5 separate regions of the Homo sapiens genome follow, and regions 1, 2, 3 and 4 are each linked to region 5. The links come from fine-mapping of genetic effects on gene expression. A gene starts in region 5. Each other region holds a variant in brackets. All regions are shown on one strand. Distances are from middle to middle.

Region 1 (5,000 bases), 23 kb before region 5:
ACCTTATTAATTTTTTTTTTTTTTTTTTTTTTGAGACGGAGTCTCACTCTGTTGCCCAGGCTGGAGTGCAGTGGCGTGATCTCAGCTCACTGCAACCTCCACCTCCTGGGTTCAAGTGATTGGCATGCCTCAGCCTCCCAAGCAGCTGGGACTACAGGTGTGCGCCACCGTGCCTGGCTAATTTTTTGTATTTTTAGTAGAGACGGGTTTCACCATGTTGGCCAGGCTGGTCTTGAACTCCTGACCTCAAGTGATCCACCCTCCTTGGGGTCCCAAAGTGCTGGGATTACAGGCGTGAGCCACCGCACCTGGCCTGCCTCATTAATTTCTGTATTTCTGTTCTTGTCTATACTATGGCTTTCCTTTATAGGTTTACAAACCTTCCATTTTTTTTTTTTTTTGGTTTCTTAAGGTAAAACCTTAAGATTCTAGACCTTTCTTCTTTTCCCATATAAGCACAAGCTAGTTTTCCTTTAAGGATTGCTTTAGCTGCATCCCATAAATTTTGACGTAGTATTCCTTATTTTCTAGTGAAATTCAGGTCAGAGATTCAGGAGGTGGAAGCTAAGGACCTGCCTGGCTGGGTGTGCTGGGTGGGAGGACAGGGGAGTGAGGAGAGGAGAATGACTGTCAACTTCTAGCCCAGTCATCTGGGTGGTTCCAGGTTCACCCACTGAAATGGGGAAAGACAGAAGCTGGTGTGTCTGGTTTGTCTGTGCCAAGTGAGGGGTGCATCCTGGGTCTCGGCAGGACACTCTGGCCTGATGCATGAGGTCTGGCCTCAAACCATAGAGCCGATGAGGTAGAGGATGAGGAGACAGACAGCAGGCGCCTGGGAACAGCATGGGCATGAGATAAGCACTCACAGAGGGTATATTGTTCTGGACCCCCCACACCTCCCTGCTGTCAGCCTTGTGGTTATTGGGCGCAGAAGCTGCCAGTCTAAACTCAAGTGTTGTAAATGTAAAACACCTGCTGGCTTTCCCAGACTCTACAAAAAAAAGAGTAAAAAAGATGTGACAATTTTTATATAGATTACATTGTTGAAATACTATTTTCAAAGTACATGGAGTGAAACGCAATACTTCATTAAAATGAATTTTACTTATTTCTTCTTAACTCTATATGTGGCTCACATAACACTCCTATTAAACAGTGCTGCCCTAGGAGAGTCCAGGGCCCTACCCACCCCTGCTGGATGAGAAGCTGCACTCTGCCAGGTCCCAGGGTACACCAGGGAGCCCTCTAGGTCGTGTACCGGCCCTAGGAGAGGCTTCGTGCCAAATCCCTGCACCATGGCCGGGACTGTGGCTCAGCATGAAAACCCTTCTTCCTCGGAGTCCCCCCACAGCTTTGCACCGTGGCCGGGCCTGTGGCTCAGCATGGAAACCCTTCCCCCTCGGGGTCTCCCCACAGCTTTGTGAACTGCTAGGGATGTCCCCTATCACTGCAGCTTCTGGCCGGAGGAGGATGGCCGGTGGCCTCGGCCTGGTCAATGCCAGTCCAGCTCAGTCTGGTACTGCGGTCCTGGGCCACCTGGGAAGACGCCAGGGAGGCCAGAGAGATCCTGGGTCAGGCCGCAGCCCTGCTCAGATCCCTCCGAGGCCCCAGGACTCCCCCTGGACTTCTGGGCGGCCCTGGGTCTCCCTTGGGCACCTGCGGGTAGTCCTGCCTTCTGGCCTCTGAACATCCAGGTGCCCCCCCAGCCCCCCACTCATGCCCTCTGTGTCTTTGCCCTCACCACAGTCGCCCAGCATGCTATCCCAGCCTGTCTCCCCACACACGGAGGAGCCGAGCCCTGACGCGAGAACAGAGGCGGAGCTCATCGTCCTCAGTGCCCAGACAAGGATCCCGAATGAGCAAACGGGGAAGGCCCAGGAGGTGGTGTTTCCAACACGCAGGGCAGGGCCTGGGGGAGGGACTGTGGCTATTCACCTGCAGTGAGGGGTCCAGAGAGACGGGGCCCTCGGACGAGGGTCTGCAGGCAGATGCCCACACACCAGGCGTGGATGCTGGGCCAGGTGCCGGGAGCCCACCCACGCTCACACCCCTCCCTCCCTGGGGGCTGCTCAG[C/T]GATGGCTCATGGACTTGGCCTGACCTGGGGAGGACCCAAGGGCCTTAGAGCTCCAGGCCCCTCGTGGGGTTGGCCCCACCGCCACAGTCTCAGTGTCACCCATCTTCCAGGAATCCACCCCGACCTCCCCTTCTCCTCCCCCAACAACAAACCAACCACTGCCCTCGTCTGCCGTGGGCTCTGCAGGAACACGCCTCGGCCTCTCCCAGAAGGCTCACGCCCTCCCCATAACCCCTTCTGCAGATGGGAGGGGACCAGCCTGCCTGTGCCAACAACAACAAGGTGGGCAGAGGCCCCCACAGAGGTGACCAGAGGGCTGATGGTCACTAAAGCACTGCACGCAGGCCCCAGTCTCCAGAGGGGTTCCTGAGGCAGCAACAGGGTCTCTGTAGTCGGGCAGCGGGCAGCCTCCCCCAGATCCCCACTGTCACCCCCCGGAAGACACCTCCATCCTCAACCTTCAGGCTGGGCTGCCCCCACCCCCTCTACAGCAGCCAGGACACAAGCCCATCTTCCTGGGCAGGCGCAGCCCCACTGAGTACCAACCCCTTCCAGAAACAAGGGAACAAGCCATGTTCCAACCAGGCCTCAGGCTCCAATCTGCTGCCTGTGATGGGAGCCAAATCCCACTTGCCGGAGGCCTCGCAGGCCCACAGCTGCATCTTCTGGTCAGCAAAGTGAGTCATAAAAATTAGAATTGACCACCAACATTTCAACATTGCCAAATCCAGAGAAACCTGGATTCCCAGCTCTTCAGAAACATCAAAGATCTGGCCACACGAAATCTGCATTTCCCAGGGCGACGCCTGGCAGCAGTGTCCCCACCAGGGCGCGGGCCCCAGGACACAACATGGATGTCCAGCACCATAGCGCCCTGGTGTCTCTGCCCTCCCCATGGCGGCACCCCGACCGCAAGCCAGTGCAGACAGTGGGTTCGAGCTGGAGGCTGCAGGGTCATGGCCAGGCCTCGAGAGCCCCTCTGGGTCCTGAATGTTTCCTCCACGGGTGTCCTCTGCACCCCCAGCTGTTGGCCACAGGGACCCAGGCTGCAGTTTCCAGCTCTCCTCAGCCCTCCCTGGCAGCCTGGCCTTCCCCATTAAGGGGCAGCCAAGTGCCACTGCTCAGCTCCAGCATGGATGGCCCCTCCCCACTCCCTCAGCCCGTTCAGGCCTGCCCCAGACATGGCTCTACTCACTCGGCCCCCTCTGTACTCACAGGAGCCCGGGGGTAGGGGCAGGGGCCTGAAAGTGGAAAGAGGGCAGGAGACTGTTTAAATCATCACTGTTCCCCACGCCTGACAACAGGGACGTCTGAAGGCAACTTCAGCCCCTCTGCGGGGCAATGGCTTGTGTGGGTGACTCTGAGATGGCACCGCCCTCCAAGCCCGCACCCCAAGTGTGCCAGGTCCAGCCTGGAGCTCAGCCAGGGCGCTGCAGCCAGGACTCGGCCCCTCCATGCCCCGGCCTTCCGTGAGCAGAACACAAGCACCTGACAGGCTGTGCAGAGGATGCTGGGCTGAACCATGCTCCCTCACGCGTGCCCAGGCCATGCAGAGGACTCTGAGCTGAACCACCCTCCCTCACCAGTCCCCAGGACACTGATCCCGGGGATGGGTGCCCCCCAGGCATGAGCCGAGAGGGGGGTCTCGACCCCTGTCACACTGGCCCACACAGTAGCCTTGCGGTGGGGGGATCTGGAGGCCGGTGCCCCCATGCTGAGCACAGTACAAACCCCCATTCCAGGCCTCAGATGGGTGGGCAGGAAGGTCAGGAACAGATGCTCCAGGTCTCCCCTCTGTTCGGTCAGAGTGCAATGAATCCCGAGCCAAGCCCAGCACAAAAGCCCTTTGTGGGAATAAATCACGTAAGACACATGCTCGTCTGTTTAAATTACAAACGCTGATGCTGTTATAAAAAATAGTGGCACGGCACTTTTTATTTTCTTTAATCAGAAAAATAAGCCCTGCGCTTCTGGGATGGAGGCCCCAGGTGAGCACCGGAGGAAGGGGCCCGGGTGGGTGGGGAGCGAGGGGGCCCGGAGGCCAAAGCAGATGCTGCACCAGAGGCTGGTCAGGACCCGGGAGGGCCTGCGGGGGTGGGGTCCTCATGAGCAAGTGCGGGGTGCTGGAGGTCAGCAGCTGCCTGGCCTGGGAGCCAGGGACACCCATCCCCTTCCTGACACCTGAGGCAGCCCAGCTGGGCAAGACCAGGCCTGCAGGACCAGAGCCTCCTGTCACGTGGCGCAGGGGTCCAGGTGGTCAACGCTGCTCTCTGGAGGACCACTGGTTAGAGCCTGCCCAGCTCCCCTGAGGTCTGGAGACAGTCAAAGCCCCCCCAAACACCCCCTCCCTTTTGGGCGAGTGGCGTGCCTTGGACTCCAGAAGACTCGAGTGGGGCTGCCTTGAGACCAGGTCCTGAGGGGGTGGCAACACCTGACCACAGGTGGGGGCCGTGGAAGGGGCAGGGATGGGCCCAGGGGTAGCCTTGTAGTGTGAGGTGTGCCCGACCACATGTAGGTCAACAGCCAGACGGGACGCTGCAGGGGACTGTGGGGAAGCCGGGAGAAGGCGCTGCCCACCCTGTGGGGTCCCCCTCGCCTGGAGACCCTGCAGGCAACCCTTCAGTGCATGCCCACGGGGGTGGTGGAGGCAGAGTCCTGAGAGGTGGGGGTGGGAGCCTCCGGGTCCCCTGCAGGTCCTGACCCACCAGATGGGCCCATGTGCCCCCTGTAGCTTGGGGGCCCTGGAGGTGGACACCAGCACCTCCTGACTACCAGGGGGAGGGCCTGGACTGAAACCCACACCTTCACCATTCGCCACTGGGCCACTCTGCAGGAACTGCAGCACCCCACAGATCCTTCATGCCCAGCACGCCACTCACTCTCACACCCTCTCGCACACATGCACACACAGCACGCACACACCAGG
Region 2 (5,123 bases), 280 kb after region 5:
TTCAACCATTAAGATGGTCAGCTTCCCTGACCGCAGCACAGCCTGCCCATGCCAGCTCTGCACAGCCCCACAGCCCAGGAGGACGGGGCTCGGGCCTCAAGCATGCCTGTGTCTCACCGCCAGTTAACCCCACTCGCCACCCATCTCCGCTCAGAGCTGGGGTTCAGGAAGCCGTCCCCAGCCAGGGCGCACCTCCTGCCCAAGCCTCATGGCCCCACTCAGTCCTCCAGCTGCACCCACACGTGATGAGTGTGACGTCTGAGCCTCGCCTGCCTCCCCTCTAGATGACAGTTTCACGATGAAGGCCGCATGTCCCCAGCGCTTCCAGGAGAACCCTACGAGCCCTGTTGCTTTGCTTGCCTTGACCAGAAGAACAGGTCCGACTTCACGGGACGGCCTCGCCCGCAGGCCCTTTGCCAGGCCCACAGCGCCGCCAAAGACAACGTCAGTCCTGAATGTACAGGGGGAGTTTTTGACCCAACGCCCACGCGCAGCAGGGCCCCTCTCCTGTCTCTCCTCTCGCTGTGATGTGCCAGCCCGGGGCCTGCAGACGACGGGCCCCAGGGACCCACCCATCTCTGGAGGAGTCTCCTGTTTTCCCATCTCTGGCCTCTGCAGTTAGTGACGGCCCCTCAGCCTTGGTGTGTCACCCACGCCACCCGTGTCTTCCTCGTGTGACCAGAAAGGGGTCCCCATCCAGACCCCAAGAGAGGCCTCTTGGATCTTGTACAAGGCAGAATTCGGGGCGAGTCCACAGAGTAAAGTGAAAGCAAGTTTATTAGAGAAGTAAAGAAATGAAGTAAAGAGAAGAATGGCTGCTCCACAGGCAGAGTGGCCCCCAGGGCTGCTGGTTGATTATTTACTAATTAACTTTTGTGGTTATTTTTTGATCATTTGCTAAACAAGGGATGGATTATTCCTGAGTTTTCTGGGAAAGGCAGCAGGATTTCCCCGAACTGAGGGCTCCACCCTTTTTAGACCACGCAGGGTAACTTCCTGACGTTCCCATGGCATCTGTGAACTGTCTTGGTGCTGGGGGGAGTGTCTTTTAGCAGCTAATGCATTATAATGAGCATAAAATGAGCCGTGAGGATGACCACAAGTCACTCGTTGCCATCTTGGTTTTGGTGGGACTTGGCGGCTCCTTTACTGGAACCTGTTTGTTTGTTTGAGATGAAGTCTTGCTCTGTCACTCAGGCTGGAGTGCAATGGTGCGATCTCGGCTCACTGCAACCTTTGCTTCCCAAGTTCAAGCAATTCTCCTGCCTCAGCCTCCCAAGTAGCTGGGACTACAGGTGCACGCCACCATGCCCAGCTAATTTTTTATTTTTTATTTATTTATTTATTTATTTTTTTTAGTAAAGACGGCATTTCACCATGTTGGCCAGGATGGTCACGATCTCTTGACTTCATGATCCACCCACCTCAGCCTCCCAAACTGCTGGGATTACAGGCGTGAGCCACCGCACCCGGCCTACTGCAACCTATTTTATCAGCAAGGTCTTTGTGACCTGTGTCTTGTGCCGACCTCCTATCTCATCCTGTGACTTAGAGTGCCTTCACCATCTGGGAATGCAGCCCAGTGGGTCTCAGCCTCATCTTACCCAGCCCCTGTTCACGATGTGGTTTGAATGGCTCTAATGCTTGGACTTCCGCCCTGGCTGTGGGGCCAGATGGTCAGGTAGCACGGGGGTGACCACAGGCATCGTCACCCAAACCAGGACACCTGAGAGTTACCAGAGGTGCTATTAATAATTACCCCAAGACAGGGGTATCAACTCGGATTGTCTTGGGCAGTGGGGATGCATGGCTAGTAACTAGCATTAACTGGTACTATGTGCTGCATGCAAGGAAGCCACAGGAGTGAGGGTCTTTGCCAGCTGTACCTGCCAAAGCAGCATGGATGGGTCAGCTCTTGGATGTGTAACAATCCACTCTGAAATGTTGCGGCCTAAGACAACCATTTCCTTGGCCCACAACTCTGGGTTGGCACATGGTCTATGTGGAGCAGAGCGGCTCTGCTCTCAGCTGGCCTTGCTGATGCCGGCAGTCAGCAGCCAGGTGAGCGGGGTTGGCTGGTTGGGGTGGGGAGGAATGGGCTCAGCTGGGCGGCTTCTCTCTGCTCCACATGGTCTCTCATCCTCATGCTGGCGGCCAGGTTACAAGACAGAGATCGGTGTGAGTGCAGTCTCCTGAGGCCCAAGCTTGGCCTTGGCACTGGGTGGGTTCTGGCCCTTTCTGTTGGTCCAAGCAAATCACGTGACGAAGGCCTAGGGTGATAGCGTCCCCCTCTCAGTGGGGAGAGCTGCACACACAGACGCCAGAAGGCGAGTCCAGCTTATCCCCAGTTGCTCTCAGTGCAGAGTGCCAGCCGGGCTCCGGCCTCCTTCACCTGATCTTCCTCTAGTGTGGCCAGGAAGGGGAGGGGCCCGGGCCTCCTGCCTCTTGAGAGCCCCTGAGAGGGGGGCCAAGTGCCTCTGGCTCCTGTGGGAGGATTTTGCCTGATCCTTAGGTGTTGGTCTCCTCTGGCCCACAGAGTGGAGAAGTTATTGCCAATATTCATCTGAAATTTATAGAGGGGTTAAACTGTTTCCCTTGAGACTGTGATGGGAGAGCCTTTAAATTCTCCCTCTGCATAAGCATCAATCTCCCGGGGAGCGCGGCACAAGGCAGATGATATACTGGTCCCTGGCTTCAAAATATGTGAAAAACTACACGGTCATTAACTCTGACGCAGAAAAGAGACCTGCCCCGGGTGTGGGGACGCCACACACCAGTGCTGCTTG[C/T]GCGAGGAGTCGTGGTGGGGGGTGGGGGCTGTCTTGTTCTTTCCCTGTTTTGCAGGGATTGGAAAGGGGATGTTGCTGAGGGCATGGGGGTTCACTCTCCGACTTTATCACTCCTGAGCTAATGGCCCTGCTGAAAAGCCAGGTCACGCAAGCCGTGGGCCCTTGTGCTTAGGGGGCACCTCACACACCCCGAAAGCTCAGGGGTCTGCGGCCCAAGCCCGGAGACTGAAGCAGCCCAGTCCCCGGCTGTGACAGGTCCTCAGCTAATGATGGAAGTTGGCCGACTCCCACCGCCCGGGAGCCTCGCCTCTCCCGTAGCTTCGGTCCTTCTAGAGACACGGTGGGGGACCCGAGGGCCGAGAGACCTGAGGCTGCATTCACCCAAGAAGGGGCCTCGGCACCACCCGCAAGCTCAGCACACACTGACGGGGCTGGCACCTGTGGAGCTGGCTTGGGGAGGCCTCGCAGACCGCCCAGCAGTCCCACCAGGTTCCCATGTGGAATCGCCCCAGCGCCACAGAAGGCCCCGGGGACAGAGTGGCCGTAAGTGGCTGTGGGGTTCCTAAAGGGAACACATTCGTTCCGCAGCTATTTATCAAGCACCTACTGTGTGCCCGGCCTCGCTCTGAGCACTGGGAGGCAGCTGTGAGCAGAAGCGACAGAAACCCTGTCCTGCGGAGCTGAGCCATGGGGAGGGACAGGCAGAGACGGGGACGGATAGCAGGCGGCGCCATACTGAGGGGTGTGAGCCTCTGGTCCGGACGCCCAGCTATGGGGCAAGGACGGCGGCTCTAAACAGGATGGAGGGAGAGGACTCACCCTGAAGACTTGATGGTGACATTTGGGGTTTATTTTTACTTTTTATGTTTTCAGACAGGGTCTCACTCTTTAACCCAGGTTGGAGAGCGTTACGTGATCTTGGCTCACTGCAGCCTCAACCTCCCGGGCTCAGGTGATCCTCCCGCCTCAGCCTCCCAAGCAGCTGGGACCGCAGGCATGCACCACCACACCTGGCTAATTTTGTTTTTTTCTGTGGAGGTGGTGTCTCACTATGTTGCCCAGGCTCGCTGGTTTTTTTAATGGACAAATAGGATTGTCCCCGTTCACGGGGTATGGCGTGCCGCACTCAGGTCAGCCGCCATCTCCACATTTGCCATTTCCTTGTGTGGGGGCTCGGCTCCTCCTCCCAGTTGCCGGCTGGGTCACGGTCAGGTCCACGGTCCTCCCTCAGCGGCACCAGCACTGGCTCCTCTCTGCCTGTGGTTTTGGTCCTTTTTTTTTTTTTTTGAGACGGAGTCTCGCTCTGTCGCCCAGGCTGCAGTGCAGTGGTGTGATCTCAGCTCACTGTCACCTCTGCCTCCCGGGTTCAAGAGATTCTCATGTTTCAGCCTCCTGAGTAGCTGGGACTACAGGCATCTGCCACCATGCCCAGCTAATTTTTGTATTTTTAGTAGACATGGGGTTTCATCATGTTGGCCAGGCGGTCTCGAACTCCTGGCCTCAAGTGATCCACCCACCTCGGCCTCCCAAAGTGCTGGAATTACAAGTGTGAGGCCCCTGTGCCCGGCTGGTTTTGTGCCTTTAACTAATCTCTCTGGCACTAGAGCTTTGAAGGCTGGAGGCAGTGGAGCATGCAGAGACCTGGGAAGGGCGCCCGGCGTGGGCACCACCTGTGCCAAGGCCCTGAGGGGTGCACGTGGGGGTGCTGGGAAGGCCAAGGTGCTTCGAACCCAGGGGGTGGGCAAGGCAGGCGTCAGGAGCCCTGGGGGGCTTCGTGTTCCCCAGCGTGAGGCCCGAGGACAGGATTCTGTGGTGGGTGGGGGGACCGAGTCACCGTGGCCTCTGTACTGGGGGTAGACAAGGAGGCTGAAACTGCTGGAGGTCGTCCCAGAGGCCAGTGTGCCAGGCGCTTCTGAAGACGGGTGGGCAGACGATGGAGGACGAGGCTCTGTCCCGCCCCTGCAGAGCTTCCTTCGTTCCGGCCCCTTCCAGCGAAGGGCAGGGCTCCGAGGTGCTTCCCCCCTCCTTCTCACGAAACCTGGGTGGTCTCAGGTTGAGGGTGGGAGACATCCGCGGAGTGGGAGGGCGGTGGGCGGGATTCACCAGCGGGGCCCCTTCCCGCTGCGAACAGAAATCCCGACCCTAGTCTGGAAGGCAGAAAGGAAGCCCCGGCTCAGGGGGCTGGAAAACCCCAGGCTTTTCTCAGGCAGGTTGTCCCACAGCAGAGACAACAGACAGAAACCCAGAAACCACCTGCCACGATGTGAACCTGATGCAGAAACGCGGTTCGCTCCCTCGGGATGCAAAGGCCAACTTCAGCCTGGCACGGCGGCGCCG
Region 3 (5,123 bases), 270 kb before region 5:
GTCCCAGGGCCGGGGCCGCGCCCTCGCCGGGCCTCCGCGAGCGGGGCCGCCGTCCGTGTCCCCCGCGCCGCCCCGGCCGCCTCGAGCGCGGCGCCGTCAGGCAGGGCGCGGGCAGCCCGGCGCGGGGTCCTGGGACGGGCGCGGCGCGGGGCGCGGGCTTCTCGGCGGCTGCGGCCCGGGCGGCGGCGATGCTGTGGCCGCGGCTGGCGGCGGCCGAGTGGGCGGCGCTGGCCTGGGAGCTGCTGGGCGCCTCGGTGCTGCTGATCGCTGTGCGGTGGCTGGTGCGGCGGCTGGGCCCGCGGCCGGGAGGTCTGGGCCGCAGCGGGACCCCAGTTCCTCCGCCAAGCGCGGCCGCCGCCCCCGCCTCAGGTAAGGCCCAGGCGGTCGCTGGGTCCCCGCACCCTGGCCCCTTCCCCGCCCCGACGCCCTCCTCGGGCCTGGGGTCCCGGCCGCGCCCCTGGAGCCGGCAGCAGTTGGGCGAGGCGGCCGGGGAAACCAGGGCCGGTCGGGAAAGGCCATTCCGGCCGCGGAAAGGGCAGTTGCGGGGACTTGGCTTCCCGGGCCGGGGGCGGAGGGGCCACGCCGGGTTCGGGGGTGAGAGCTTTCCCGGGCCCTGGAGCAGCCTCCGGGGAAGGCGGCGGGGGCCCGGCGAGGCGTTAGCGGAGACTCTTGCTGCGGTCTCTCGAGACCTGGGGAGGGATGGCCCAAAGGAGGGCGGCGCGGGGAGGAAACCCCTGGGTCCCGGATGTGTTTGGAACGTGAAGCCATTGCGGTTACTGGTCATGGAACATAAGGCAGAGACGGAAAAGGCAAATGTAACTCAGGGGTTTGGGGCCAGAGGAAGAGGGAGAAGGTGGCCATTTATTGCTTTGCGGTAGACTGTCGGGTCTGGGTGATGTGGAGATCAGAGGTGGGTTTTGGTCGTTTTAAGTTTGAGGTAACTGATACAGTGAACTGTGTATTTCAGCTCCATCCCCTTTTCCTGGCATACAACTCTTGAAATCCCGGGAACCTCCAAAGTGATGTCTTTTGTAGGCTGAGTGGACTGGTGGCCGGCAGCCCCTAGGGAGCTTCTGGATGGGGCTGGTCGCAGGAAAGACCAAGGCAGGGTTAGAGGTTCTGGGGACTTTCAGCCCCACCCCCAACCTCTGGGGAGGAGAGAGGGGTGAAGGTTGCGTTGATCACCAGTGGCTGATGAATCACGCCTGTGAAATGAAGTTCCTGTAAAAACCCAAAAGGGCTGGGTTCAGGGAGCTTCCAGATAGTACGTGGGGGTTCCTGGAGGCGGTGCCCAGAGAGGCCCTGAATTTCCAAGCGCTTCCCCCCGGTTTTACGTCACGCATCTCTTCACCTGTATTCTTTGTAATCCTTTATACTCTGCTGGTAAGTGTAAGTAAAACATGTCTGTGAGTTCGGGAGCCACTCTAGCAAATTACCGCAACCTGAGGAGGTCACCGGGTTACGCCCCGTCGGTCCCAAGCGCAGGTCAAACAACCTGGGCACTGGAAGTGGGGGGCAGTCTTGCGGGGCTGAGCCGTTAACCTGTGGGGGTCTGCTGGTATCTCCAGGAAGACGCTGTCAGAATAGATGACTGAATTAGGATGACAGACGACACCCAGCCTGTGTCCACTGCAGAACTGACGACCTGCGTGATTTGTGGGGAGAAAATCCCCACATACCTGGTGTCCGAAGCATGTTGCAAGACTAGTGGGAGAAACTGAGTTTGTTTTTACTCTAAATTGTCAGACTGTTAGTCACTGCGGAGAGGTGCTTTCTGATGATTGAGTGGGGATTCCTGTCCAATTGTGTGAGTTTGTGTCTCGGCCCTACCACTTTTTTTTTTTTTTTTTTTTGAAATGTAGTCTCGCCCTGTGGCCCAGGCTGGAGTGCAGTGGCGCGATCTCGGCTCACTGCAAGCTCCGCCTCCCGGGTTCAAGCGATTCTCCTGCATCAGCCTCCCGAGTAGCTGGGATTACAGGCGCCTGCCACCACGCCCGGCTAATTTTTGTATTTTTAATAGAGACGGGGTTTCACCATGTTGGCCAGGATGGTCTCGAATTCCTGACCTCAGGTGATCCACCTGCCTCAGCTTCCCAAAATGCTGGGATTACAGGTGTGAGCCATCGCACCGGGCCCTACCACTTATTGCTGTGGGCTTAACCTGTTTTCAGCCTGCTCTTTTAGGAATGGGGATGATAGTGATACCTGGTTAGGCTTTTTTGGGAGTTGGGTAAGTGCAGCACTTGGTATGTGTTAAGCACCTCTGAGTGCTGTTACTGTCACCAGCGGCATCATCCAGGCAGAGCTGCGGACAAGGTGGCGGCGGGTGAGGGTGGTGTTTTGAGAATGGCTGAAATAAAAAAATACTGATTTATTTTATATAAAAATATGTTTTTATATATGATGTATAATATACGTATATCATGGCATATGATACGTGTATATCATATAGCACATAT[AGTATAC/C]ATATATATAGTCAGCAGAGATTTAGAGAAACTGGGCCTCGTGCATTGCAGGTGGGGACGGTAAGTGGTGCAGCTACTCTGGGAATCAGCCTGGCAGGTTTTTAGGAAGTTAAACCTGCCCTGCATTCCTGAGCTTTTATTAGACAAATGAAAACTATTTTCACACAAAAACCCATATTTAATGTTCATAGCAACTTTATTTGTAATTACCAGAAACTGAAATAACTCAAATGGTTAAACTTGCACACTGATACCCCGGGGTGCCACTCCGCAGCGATCCTCTCTGCCACGTGGGTGCCCCGGGGTGCCACTCTGCATGATCCACTCTGCCACGTGGGTGCCCCGGGGTGCCACTCCGCAGCGATCCTCTCTGCCACGTGGGTGCCCCGGGGTGCCACTCTGCGTGATCCACTCTGCCACGTGGGTGCCCCGGGGTGCCACTCCGCAGCGATCCTCTCTGCCACGTGGGTGCCCCGGGGTGCCACTCCGCAGCGATCCACTCTGCCACGTGGGTGCCCCGGGGTGCCACTCCGCAGCGATCCTCTCTGCCACGTGGGTGCCCCGGGGTGCCACACTGCGTGATCCACTCTGCCACGTGGGTGCCCCGGGGTGCCACTCCGCAGCGATCCACTCTGCCACGTGGGTGGATCTCAAGGGCATTATGCTGAATAGGAAAAGCCAGTCTCAAAAGTTGTGTACTTGGCCGGTTGCGGTGGCTCATGCCTGTAATCCCAGCACTTTGGGAGGCCGAGGCAGGTGGATCACAAGGTCAGGAGTTCAAGATCAGCCTGGCCAACATGGTGAGGCAGTCTCCACTAAAAATACAAAAAAATAGCGGGGCGTGGTGGCAGGTACCTGTAATCCCAGCTACTCGGGAGGCTGAGGCAGCAGAATTGCTTGAACCCAGGAGGTGGAGGTTGCGGTGAGCAGAGATCGTGCCACTGCACTCCAGCCTGGGCGACAGAGCAAGACTCCATCTCAAAAAAAAAAAAATTGTTAATGGAACATTATAACCCAGTGTTCAGACCTAGCTGTTTCTCACATCTTTACCCATCGATCTGTCAAAGACCTTGTGATCATACTGATACTTCCAATTTCAATGCGACGTCCGCGGGTTTATTCTTTTTTTTTTAGGTGGAGTCTCACTCTGTTGTCCAGGCTGGAGACTCACTGCAACCTCTGCCTGCCCAGTTCAAGCGATTCTCCCACCTAGCCTGCTGAGTAGCTGGGATGACAGGTGCATGCCACCATGCCTGGCTAATTTTTGTGTTTTTAGTAGACACCTGGTTTCATCATGTTGGCCAGGCTGGTCTCAAACACCTGACCTCAAATGATCCATGCACCTTGGCCTCCCAAAGTGCTGGGATTACCAGCATGAGCCACCGTGTCCGGCTCCCTGGCTTTATTCTAATGCAAGAGTCAGTAAACTGTGGTCCAAACTGGCCCCCACCTATTTTCCTTAGTAAAGTTTTATTGGAATACAACCATACCCTTTTGTTTATGTATATCTGTGGCTGTTCTTTTTTTTTTTTTTTTTGGAGACGGGGTCTTGCTCTGTTGCCCAGGTTGGAGTGCAGTGGCACAAACAGGGCTCACTGCATCCTCAAACTCTTAGGCTTAATTTATCCTCCTTCCTCAGCCCCCCAAGTAGTTGGAACCACAGGTGCACGTCACCACACTCAGCTAATTTTTTTTTTTTGAGACGGAGTCTCGCTCTGTCGCCCAGGCTGGAGTGCAGTGCCGCCATCTCTGCTCACTGCAAGTTCTGCCCCCTGGGTTCACACCATTCTCCTGCCTCAGCCTCCTGAGTAGCTGGGACTACAGGCGCCCGCCACCATGGCCGGCTAATTTTTTAGTATTTTTAGTAGAGACAGGGTTTCACCGTGTTTGCCAGGATAGTCTCAATCTCCTGACCTCATGATCCACCTGCCTCGGCCTCCCAAAGTGCTGGGATTACAGGCATGAGTCACCGCGCCCAGCCATCAGATAATTTTTAAAGTTTTTGTAGAAAGGGTGTCGCTGTGTTACCCAGGCTGGTCTTGAACTCCTGGGCTCAAGTGATCTTCCCGCCTCGGCCTCCCCAAGCGCTGGGGTGACAGGTGTGAGCCGCCACACGCGGCCTGTGGCTGTTCTGAGCACTCACGTGGCCTTTGGCTCATAGAGTCTGAGATGCTTACTCTCTCGCCCTTTACAGGAATCGTTTGCTGAAACCCTGTTCTCACTCCCACTTTCCTTTCTGTCATTGAGAGTCCTGGCTCTCATCAGCCACCGTGTATTCCAATTATTTGCTTTGCCCTAGAGTCCACAGAAAATAGCTTTAGGTGTGTTAACCTATACCATTGTGAAAACATCTACTGCCTAGAGCCTGTTCACACGGTAATGGTGCACAGTCCTTTTTGTCTTTCTCCTTAGAGCACCTAGTCACTCACTGTTTTCCAAAGTTACGTAGGTTAGCTTCCCCTGTGTTACTCACTTGTAATACAGTTAGGTGCATTTCTTCTGGCTAGTATTCCATGTGGGTGTCTCCCCCATCTTTTTGTTTATTTACTTATTTCTTTTTTTTTTGTTTTTTTTGTTGTTGTTGTTTTATTGAGGTGGAGTCTCGCTCTGTTGCCCAGGCTGGAGTGTAGTGGTGCGATCTCGGCTCACTGTGACCTC
Region 4 (5,123 bases), 64 kb after region 5:
TCCTGGGCCTGGGGTGGAGCAGGGTGAACACATACGGAAGCGTAAACACAGCGGGCCGACTTCAGCCTGCAGCTCAGCCCTGCGGTCTCCTGGGCAACGCGCTGCGTGGGGACATTGTCTCTCACCTGAAAAGCTGCTTACGGGCCCCCACCTCGTCGTGGGTTTAAAGCGGATTAATGGGAGGGTTGGTGGTTCTGGGGCTGGCAGGGCTTCCCAGCAGGGGCAGCCCCTTCATGTGGTGGCGAGCTTGGTAGTGACAACAGGCAGGCCGCTGTGCCCCGGGTGGGTGGCTGGAGCTGGGCGTGGGGTGTCTCCCCGTGAGGACTGTCTGCCCTGCCCGCTGCTCACAAGCCTTCTGCGTTTCCCACCACGCTCTCCTCACCTTCTACTGGGAGGAAGGTCCCAGGGCACGGGAGGGACCCTGTCTAGAGTGGAGCTGGGCTGCCCCATCTCAGGTCATGGGTCACGGCTGCCCCATCTCAGGTGACGGCAGCCCCCTTCAGGTGAAGGCCAAGGCGCGGCTCTTCTCCTCCCAGCCTGAAGCAGATCCTGTTGTCTGCAAGTACCCAGCATCCGATGGCTTCTCACGGCCTCCACCCCGGCCACCTGGTCCGAGACACTGCTGTCTCCGGCCTGGACTGGTGCAGTAGCCAGCAGCTGCTGCTCTCGCCCTCTATGGGGCAGCCTCACACGGCCCGTGGTGCCCCTGCTGGTGCTCAGTCCTTGTGCGCTCCCTCCCTTGAGCATGTGCGGGACCTGTGGTTTATCTCAAATGAATAGAAAATGGCAAAAGCAATGGGGTGTCACTTCCAAATCTGGTCGCGGAAAGACCCTGGTCTATCTTGCTCATCCCTCTCACCCTCTCCCACGGTCTGGTGAAACCAGTGGCTGTGCCGAGAGCTGCCATGGGGCAAGAGACTGAGGGCGGCTTCCAGCTAAACGCCAGTGAGGAGCTGAGGCCCTGAAGAACTGAATCCCGCCCAGAACTACATGCCTGAGCTCGGAGCCATTTCTTCCCCATGGGAGATGAGACCCCTGCCCAGCTGAGTCCGGATTGCAGCCTGTGAGACCCTGAGCCTGCGGATCCAGCCAAGCCATACCTGATCCTTGATCTAAGGAAAATGGGAGCTGATAAGTGTGTGCTGTTTTCAGCTGCCAAGTGTGGGACCCTTTGTGATGCTGGAGTCAGTAGATGCCGCAGGCTCACCCCGCCCTCTCCTCCCAGCCAGCATGATTATGTCAAGACCAGATCAGCTCACAGCACTTCCCTGCTCATGGCTCCTAGTGTCTCAACAGCCCCAGGCCCTGCCCCATTTGTCACCTCCCAGCCACCCACCCCAGGCCCTGCACTGTTCGTCACCCCCTGGCCACTGCCTGCTCCCCAGGCCTGCCCTGTTCATCACCCCCCCAACAGGCCTTGAACCATTCATCACCCCCCGGCCACCAGCCCCAGGCCCCGCCCCGTTCGTCACCCCCCCCCGCCACCCACCCCAGGCCCCGCCCCGTTCATCACCCCCCCACCGGCCACCCGCCCCAGGCCCTGCTCCGTTCGTCACCCCCCGGCCACCCGCCCCAGGCCCCGCCCCGTTCGTCACCCCCTGGCCACCGCCTGCTCTTTCCTTGCTTCCTGGCCTTGAGCCACATGGGGCAGTTTCCTGAACATTCCCACTGTGTTTGCACAGGAGGTTCCCTCTGCCTGAGATGCTGCTCCCTCACGCCTTCCAACATCAGCTTCTCAGTGAGCCCCTCCCTGATCTCTCTGCTTAGCCTCAGATTCCTCCCGTGTCCCTGCCGCTCCTGCTTATTTGTCTCTGCAGGATTCATCAGCATCGGGCCCTTCCAGCTGTCAACCTACCCCCGCTGCCACTGGGACGCACACTCCACAAAAGCAGGGTTCTCCTGTGTCTTCTCTCTCCCCTGCAGCACCCCCAGGGCCTAGAGCAGTGTCTGACACACGGTGGAGTCTCAGCAAACATTTGTTCAAGGAGTAAACCGCAGGAGTGGAGGGCAAATCCAAGCGTGAGCCTGAGCCTGCGTTGCTGCGGGAATGTGAGCAGGTGCCCCGGTCCACCCCGGCAGAGGCCTCCCCCGCCCAGCGCGTTTCGCCACATCTCCTCTGGCCAACTGAGTCCTCGCAGAAAGGTGTGTCAAACAGATCATTCCTCCACCTGCATCCCTGAGTGAGGACAAACAGCAGGTCCCCTGAGGACGTGTGAGAGCAGTTGCCTGAGTGAGAGATACGCCTTCGCCATTGAAGGCACTGAGTCTGGGGACTGTTTGTTAGAGCAGCAGAACCAAGCAATCCTGACAGCGCAGAAACCAGCTCCAAGAAATGAGGTGCTGCCGCAGCCACAGGGCACCTGGAGCACGTGTCCTGCTCACGTGGAGGACAGAGAGAAGGCGGGGCAGAGGCCGGAGCACACTCGGTGTGGAACACTCGGTCAGACTGGACTCGGCAACTTGGAAGTTGGACCATGAACCTGACGAAACCGCAGCTCTAGGGAAAGGCTGGAAAATCGCACGTCGGCAGACATGCCAGTGAGATCTTTTGAGGAGCCAGACCCAGACAGGAATTGTCCATCCTGCCAGCAGGCGTGAAAGTGAACAAGGAGATTTCAAAATATGACACTCCCAGAAAGCTGGAAGAGCCGGCTGACTGTAGACTCCAAGTGATCAAGAAAGTGCACTGACAAAAGTCTCAAGCAGGGCACGGCGTCACAGCCTTGTTCATCTCCCGTGCATCGAGGCGTCTCATGGTGAAGGTGCCATGTGGGCATGGTGATTTTCACTTGGACAAAACGGCGCAGGGGAAAGTGACC[A/G]GGTAGGGAGAGGAGGATGACGTCCCTGAAACTCAGCTGAGCCATCGGCATGGGCGGAAGGCTTTGTGGCCCTGGGAAGGTCGATGGCGGAGGAGCTGCAGGGGTGGCTGCTGCATGTGGAGCTGGCTGAAGCCAGAGATGAGAAAGCTCCTGGGGTCTCGAGAGAGTCGCGATGACAGGATGGCACCCACTCAGTCTACAAGAGAAACGTGTGCGTTAATGCAAACCACCACTAACTCCTGCGACCAGGAGGTGGGCGGCGAAGACTCACCGGCCCCAAGGAAGGCGTGTCCTGGGTACCCACCTCGTACTGGCCGAGAAGGGTCATGGAGGAATCAGAAACCTCTCGGAGGGCAGAGCCAGGGGCCTCGGAGGATGGCAGAAAGGGAGGTGACCTTCAGGTAGGAACTGAATCTGGACTGAGTGAGGGAGCGTGGACCAGCACCAGGGTGGGTGCTCAGGGGCCTTCCCGGGGGTTTCAGGTCCTCTGTGGACCAGCGACTGCCGCCATCTCCCTTCTCTCTCTCCCTGCTGCTGGGGCCATCATGTCCATTCCCTGCCACCCACTGTGCACCGAGCATGAGGGAGGCAATGACCAATCTCTTCAGTCTGTGAGTCTCCGGTGAAGAGGTGTCTGGGGTCACCCAGACCCGATATGGCTGTGATTTGGGGTCGTCTCACCTGGGGAGCCATGACGGGGAGTGAACACAGTCGATTAGTCCAGAAGGCAGACGTGGAAGTCAGTGGCGCCGCCCACTAATATTTTGGCCTCCTTTTCCAGACGCATTTAGGATTATGCTTTCCCTCTCTCTCCAAGTTAGGCCCGGCCATGTGACCTGCTTTGGCCAATGAAATTCTAGCCTTTAAACACGAGTTCATGATGCTTCCTGCTTTGGGGATTGTGGATGTGTGTTGACACCTGGGTCCCTGTCCCCCAGTGATGACAAAGAGCAAAGGCACCTGCTGGCCCACGCTGGACACACATGTGAGAAAGACATGCATCTGTGAAGTGCTCAGCTGCTGTGGTGTGGGGCTGTTTGTTACACAGCCCAGCCAAGCCCAGCCTGACTGATACACTCCCTCAAGCATGAATAGGGCTCTGCCTCTCCAATGAGGGGAGTGGGGCCCAGGGCTGTTTCTCAGCGATGTCCAGAACACCTTACTCCTAGGTCCCCCAGAAGCAATGACAAGAAACACCACAGGAGGCATCTGTGGAGGAGCTGGTCGTGGCAGGGTGGGCACAGCTCTGCCCTGCTGTGGAAGGAGTTGACGATCCCCCAGGGCCCTGTCCCCGAGGGAGGGCCTGGTCTCCTGAGCAGTGTCCTGGATCGGGGCTGGCGTGTGAGTAAAAGTGGGTCCAGCCCTCCCCACCCCAAGCTGGGAGAGGTGAGACCCCCACAGCCCACTAGGCGCCAGTGACTGATGGGCCCGCCACTGTCTTCACAGCCCCCAGAGTTCTCTGGTAATCACAGGCGTGGAACATGTGCCAGGAACCTTTGGTTTGCGTGTACCTTTAGATGCTCGGATTAAATTACACCCATAATGCATTATGTCATTGATAATAATATCACTGTGTATAAGACACGGCGTGGAAGGAGCCTGCTCCTGGACGGTTCATCCGTCTCTTCACACACAATTTCCATACGTGACTAAAGATCACCATTTTAACAGCCTTTGGTGCAGACACTGAGAGGCAGTTGCAGAGTTAACAGCGCATAAATCTCATTTCCTCTGCACTCCATTTTTCTCAGGCTGCAGAATCAATTTGAGTCTGTCAGGATTTTATTCCAAAGTCTATTAACGGCCCCCGCTTCCTTCTACTCCCCCGCCCACCGCCTTCCCCTTTCGTGAACTCAGTCCTGCAGAAAAAGACGCCTTGCTGATACAAAGTAACAGCCTTTTATCTCTTTACAACAAAATCTAACTAGGCGTGAAGGAGACGCAGCTGGGACAATTAGGCGAGGGTGGAGGTCACTGGCCTGGGGATCCCGCAGCCCAGGCCCTTGTGGGTCTGCAGCTGGGTCCTGGATGCGTAGCTCCCGCCCTGGGAAGGGAAACTGCTGGGCCTTTTCCGCGTGCCCCGCGGGCAGGAGGTGCTTTCTGGAGGGCAGCCCATGTTCTCTCTGTGGATCCAGTTGCCTCGCCCAGGGGAGGTCTCTGCTGTGACAGTAACTTAGAGGTGCAGCCGCCCTTCTGAGTCACGCACACATCAGGGTGAACCCCACAGCACCCGCTTGCTGGCCCCACTTCACAGGCGGGGAACCAGGCACAGAGAGGTTGAGTGATCTGCCCGAGGCCACACAG
Region 5 (5,113 bases):
CTTTGGGGAAAAACCACCATACTTTGGCAAAAAATGTAGACAACCAAGAGACACGTATGGGATGATCACGAGGTTATGACTTGTGCAGAAGCCCCGTACTTTCCCAGGCAGGCTCCGAAGGGCAGAGGAAGGGACATGAAACCACCCTGGGGTGCTGTGGCTGTGTTAACGCCACGCAGCAGCAGACTTGTCTCACTATGACCTGAGGGGCCAGCTGGTCTAAGCCGAAGTCACCAAAACCCACTGAACCCACTGCCTGCAGGCTGGGGGCACGTGACCCTGCCAGAGCAGGTGGACAGCCAGTCAGAGCCGCTGCGGGCAAAACACGTGGGCCTGGGATTGGCCCTGGATCTCCTGAGTACAGTTCATCTCCTCACTCAGATTCCTGACACACGCATCTGGGGCACTTTCTACACATCGAGCTCTTCCCGGCACCAGACCCCATAGGAGACACACAGGACAGCACAGTGTCTGCTCTCTTTCAGCTTACAAGTTCTTGTGGGAGACGAAAATGGAGAGCAAAGACATTCTAAAACAGCTTTGCAGAGTGGGGATGACAAAAAGAAGGTGGGCAACGTCGACGGGGGTGGGGGGCACCACTTCAGAGGAGTCTGAGGTGACGTTTTTGCAAAGACACAATGGCACCAAACATAAAGCAGACAGAGAACGGCAGGGTACAAGGGCTGACCCGCTCGGAGCAGTGAGGAAGCCGCGGTTAGGGACCCAGGAGGTGCAGGTGGGTGGCGACAGCTCTGGAAAGTGGGCATCCTCGTGGTCTCAGCTGCAGTGCAGGAGCCGAGCGCAGGGCCTGGCTTGCAGTATTGCTCAGTACACGTACAGTCTGTGTCATTATCACCACTGAGAGGGCAGAAGACAGCCCCAGGGCCATCCCGTCCCAGCACAGAGCAATGGCGTGTGCCAGCCCTGGAGCCATCTAATAATGTGCAGGACAGAGGATGGCCAGCCTGTGTGATGAGCCTGGCCACCACCCACCCCGTCCTGGGCCCACAGGAGCCCCAGCTCTGTCCGTGCACTTGGGACACGAAGCCCCAGCTCTGACTGTGCACTCGGGACACGATGCGGCACCTGTTCTGGGGCCACTTCCCTGGCCACCGGCCCTGACCCAAGGCTCTCTACAGTCCCCAGAGTTTGGATGAGAACTTGAAGAGGACTTGCTGCTTCAGGGGCCTGCAGTAGGCATCTCCCCTTTTCCCAAAGCTCAGCTTCTGAGACTGGGGGATCCCAGGCCATGGGCTCCCAAGCCCCTGGAAAAGTGAGAGGGGTTGGAAATGGGGTGATTCTGGGAGTCAAAGTCCAGCAGATGAGGGTCCCCCAAAGTAAGTGCTGCACGGGGCACACCTCGCTGGGCGGGTCTCGGCCCTGGTGCAGGGCAACTTGCTAGCATTCCTGCCCATGCCAGTCCTGGGGAGACAGCGCCTGCCCCAACTCTCAGACAGCATTTAATTTCCTTCTCTGCTCAGCTGAGTTCATGTAAGAGGAGCAGTATTTGCTCAGCAAATACTGTCCGTCAGCCAGACAAGCAATATTTTTGGCCAATCTATTAACCATGCAGCAGGCAGCAGTCACCAAGAGGGGTCTTGAGATTAACCCTCCTTCTCCCCTTCTCAGCAGAGCCCTCGAAGGGAGGAGGGAACGGGATGGCCCGCGGAGTATCCATTTTATCACCACCTCCCTAAGATCCAGCACTGCTCCCTAGCACGTCCTGAACCAGGCAGAGCGATATGCTGGCCACAGAAACACAACTGATAAAAGGCCGACGGTGCTGTCAGACAGCCCCCAATTTCGAAGCGTAGATTTTTTTGCCTCTGCAACTTAAAACGTCCCCAAACCCACCCGACGCTGCTGGGTCTTCCAGATGCGACGGTCTGGGCGAGCGGTGGGCACCCAGGGTCCCTGGAACGGGTACCAAGTGGCCGGGGCTTCCCTCAGGGCTGCCCACGGCGCGGGCGGTCGCAAGCCCAGGGGTCCCGGGATCGCCCGACGCGTCAACTCCGGGCCCCGTTCTCGCCTCAACGCCTGCGAAGCCGCACCCGTCCACCTACCTCCAGGGCCTCCAGGGTGCTGAAGCTGGCGATGGCGAAGCCGTCGATGACCTCCTCCTCCTGCGAGCTGGACTCGCGGCGGCGGCGGCGCGGGGGACGCGCGGTGCGGGGCGCGGGGGCGGCGCCTCGGGGGGGCGCGCCGCGGAGGCCCGCGTTCTCCTTGCCGGGGCTGGGCTCGGGCTCGTCGCCCGACGACGGACTCTGGGCGCGGGCGTCGCGGGCGGCCTCCCGGCGCCGGCCACGGTCCCGCTGCGCGCGCGAGCGCCGGCTCGGGCGGACCTTGGCCTCCATGGCCGCGCGTGCGCCCCGTCGGGCCGGTGACCTTGACGCCCCGCGCCTGGCTCGCAGCAGGCGGGCTCCCTCGGCTACGCGGCGCCGCCGGGCTGAGTGTGCGCCGCGCGGGCTCGGGCCCTGGGCGGCGGCGGGCGGCGGGCCGGGCCGGGCATGCCGGGCGCGGGGGGCGGCTCAGCCCCGGGCCCGGCGCGGCCTGGGACCCCCGGCGCGGGCGGCTGGGCGCATCGGCGGGGGCGGGCCCGGCGCTCAGCGGCCCTCGGCCGCCCCCCCGGGGGCGCGCCCCATGCGCGCGGCGCGGCGATCGGGCCGAGCGGGCGGGGCCGGGCGGGCGCGGCAGGCGGCAGGCGGGAGGCGGCCGGGCTCCTGGGCACCGGGCTCGTGAGGCGGCGGCGGCGCCCCGAACAGATAACAACTGACGCACTTCCGCCCGGCTGCGCTCGCCAGAGGAAGTGAGGGCCGCCGCGGGCGCCCGCGCGCCCCGCCCCGACCACGCCCCTGCCCCGCCCCGCTCATAAGGCTCCGCCCCCACCCCGCACACGCGGCCCGCCCCGCTCACAAGGCTCCGGCCCCTCCCCGCCCCATTCACGCAGGCCCCGCCCCCCGCAGGCTCCGCCCCCTCCCCGACCCGCTCACGCAGGCCCCGGCCCCGCCCCTCCCGGGCGCTCCCGCTAATTCAGGCCCCGCCCCACCCGCAGGTGCCCGCCCTTCGACCTCGCCCCCTAGCCGCGCCCCTCCCCGGCGCCCCGACCTCCGCTGCAGCCGGCGGTGATCCGCTCGGCTCCTTCCTGGGAGGGCGCTGGGATGCCGCGGCCCCTCCGTGGGCACCTGCGGGCGGCGCTCTCCAAGCGGGAGGCGGGGGCAGCGCCGCCCTCCTCTGCGGGACTGGGGTCCCCGGCCGCGGGCGGCTTCCGAGGAGGACGAGGGGCCTCCGGTCTCGCGGAACCGAAGTCCTGCCCTCGGCGAGCGTGGAAGGGACGGGGAAGGGGCGGGGAGGACCGGGGGAGGGTCCTCGGCCAGGCGGTGCCCCCTCCCCGCGTCCCCGCGGACCCTCCCAGGCCTCCTAGGATGCGGGAGGGGTCTGTCCGCGTCCCCGCCCCGCGCCACGTGCCCCCAAGTCCCACAAGAAGGCGGCTCCCGCCACCGAGACCCCCGGGAACGCGCCCAGCGAGGCGGGGGCTGCTGCCAGACACGGAGCGCAGTGTGGAGGGCGGCGCGGGCAGGAAGCGCACGGAGGCGGCTGCGGTTGCGAGGCAGGCGCGGGGCGAACTTCCTCCTCCACCCCCAGGACAGGCCGAGCTCGGAGGGGCCCGCCTGGTGGGGTTTTCTGAGCCCAGGGGCCCCTTGCGCGTGGGCACTGGAGTCATTGATTCATGCAGCGCGTATTTGCCAGATGCCTCCTGTGTCCAGGCTCTGTTGGTGACCCCGCAGCGGCTGAGATAGACTACCCTCTTAGAAGTGGGAGAGAGACCCTGAACACAGGGCCAAATAGAATATCAGCCAAGGATAATCTGAAGAAAATCGAACGGGGAGGTGTCACAGAGAGTGGGCATTGGGTGGTCCAGAGGGCCTCCCCGAGGAGTGACGACTCCGAGCCCCAGCAGTCATGGGCACCCTGTTTCAGGTCGGGGCTACACCCCTGCACAGGCCCTCGGAGAAGAATGGTGGTTTGCTGGAGGGCGGAGGGGAGGGTGCCCAAGACAGTGGTGGGACCCTGCCCTCGGTTGCCCTTAGTGGGAACGGGTCCTCGCCCACTCTGCGGGGTCCACTTTACCCTGCCTCTGGGAGAGCCTACTGGCGGCCTCTTGTGCAGGGCAGGAAGGGTGTGGTCCAGGCACCACTGGCTGTTTGCTGGGCTGAGGCAGTTGGGAAAGTAGCTCACTGGGGTGGGGGGACTTCCTGTTCACCCAGCCTCCTCCAGTCCACCCAGCCCGCTCTCTGGTTCCCTGTCAAAGCCTCCCCAGGGTGGGGGCAGGGTCCCCCTCCCCCTCTTCCCATTCCGGGTTTTGTTAAACCGTGGTTTCACCCTCCAGCATCCTCCCTTTTGATTTTTAAAAGCCTCATTAGGAAGACAGAAACGGACCCCGAGTAGTTTCTCCATGCACGCCTGCTCCCGAATTCCCCTCCCTGGACAGAAGGCCAGGAAATGTGGGCGAGGGTCACCCAGGTGGCATTTGAGGCTCTTGTTTAAATACAGGCCTCTTCCCAAGTAGCCTGGGAGTCCTCACCTGTTCCCCGAGGCTCCCAGAGGCCATCCCACCCTAGGCTGGGCCCAGAGGTCAGTCAGACTGCAAGGGGCATCCTGTGGGCACCCCCTCCCCCCCAGAAGAATTGCTTGGGAAGGTCTGAGGTTTTGGATTTGAAGTTTCTTTCTCTTTTTCTTTTTCTTTTTTTTTTTTTGAGACAGATCTCACTTTGTCACCCAGACTGGAGTGCAGTGGCGTGATCTTGGCTCACTGCAGCCTCCGTCTCCCGGGTTCAAGCCATTCTCTTGTCTCAGCCTCCCGAGTACCCAGGACTACAGGCCTATGCCACCATGTCTGACTAATGTTTTGTATTTTTAGTAGAGATGGGGTTTCGCCATGTTGGCCAAGCTAGTCTCGAACTCCTGACCTCAGGTGATCTACCCGCCTCAGCTTTCCAAAGTGCTGGGATTACAGGCGTGAACCACTGTGCCCAGCCTGAAGTTTCTGATTATAGACATACACTGTTTGTTTATCTGATCTCCGAAGATGTTCAGATGTGTGACCCCAGTGAAG

Evidence for each region.
Region 1: its variant is fine-mapped to the expression of FBRSL1 in whole blood (TOPMed, PIP above 0.99).
Region 2: its variant is fine-mapped to the expression of FBRSL1 in T cells (TOPMed, PIP 0.95).
Region 3: its variant is fine-mapped to the expression of FBRSL1 in whole blood (INTERVAL, PIP above 0.99).
Region 4: its variant is fine-mapped to the expression of FBRSL1 in pancreas (GTEx, PIP above 0.99).

The regions. Positions count from the first base shown.
Region 1 is chr12:132,510,932-132,515,931 of GRCh38, reverse strand. All of the region lies in intron 2 of FBRSL1 (fibrosin like 1), which reads right to left. Among named protein-coding and RNA genes, the nearest start is that of FBRSL1, 23 kb to the right of the region's middle. The variant C/T (reference allele first, on the strand shown) is at 2,074.
Region 2 is chr12:132,205,597-132,210,719 of GRCh38, reverse strand. All of the region lies in intron 6 of GALNT9 (polypeptide N-acetylgalactosaminyltransferase 9), which reads left to right. LOC105370091 (a long non-coding RNA gene) reads right to left here. Exons shown (of 6, transcript XR_007063541.1): 5 at 5,040-5,123; 6 at 3,619-4,933. Among named protein-coding and RNA genes, the nearest start is that of LINC02361, 18 kb to the right of the region's middle. The variant C/T (reference allele first, on the strand shown) is at 2,787.
Region 3 is chr12:132,756,864-132,761,986 of GRCh38, reverse strand. It overlaps ANKLE2 (ankyrin repeat and LEM domain containing 2), which reads left to right and starts at 155. Exons shown (of 13, transcript NM_015114.3): 1 at 155-369. The coding sequence starts at 189. RefSeq lists silencers at 1-26, 117-706, 4,365-4,544 and an enhancer at 1-809. The variant AGTATAC/C (reference allele first, on the strand shown) is at 2,460.
Region 4 is chr12:132,423,750-132,428,872 of GRCh38, reverse strand. It overlaps LOC105370092, which reads left to right. Exons shown (of 4, transcript XM_047429966.1): 4 at 1-4,366. Among named protein-coding and RNA genes, the nearest start is that of MUC8, 48 kb to the left of the region's middle. RefSeq lists an enhancer at 1-198. The variant A/G (reference allele first, on the strand shown) is at 2,820.
Region 5 is chr12:132,487,812-132,492,924 of GRCh38, reverse strand. FBRSL1 (fibrosin like 1) reads right to left here and starts at 2,774. Exons shown (of 19, transcript NM_001367871.1): 1 at 2,064-2,774. The coding sequence starts at 2,354. RefSeq lists enhancers at 340-409, 1,123-1,686, 3,684-3,813 and silencers at 2,844-3,293, 3,424-3,493.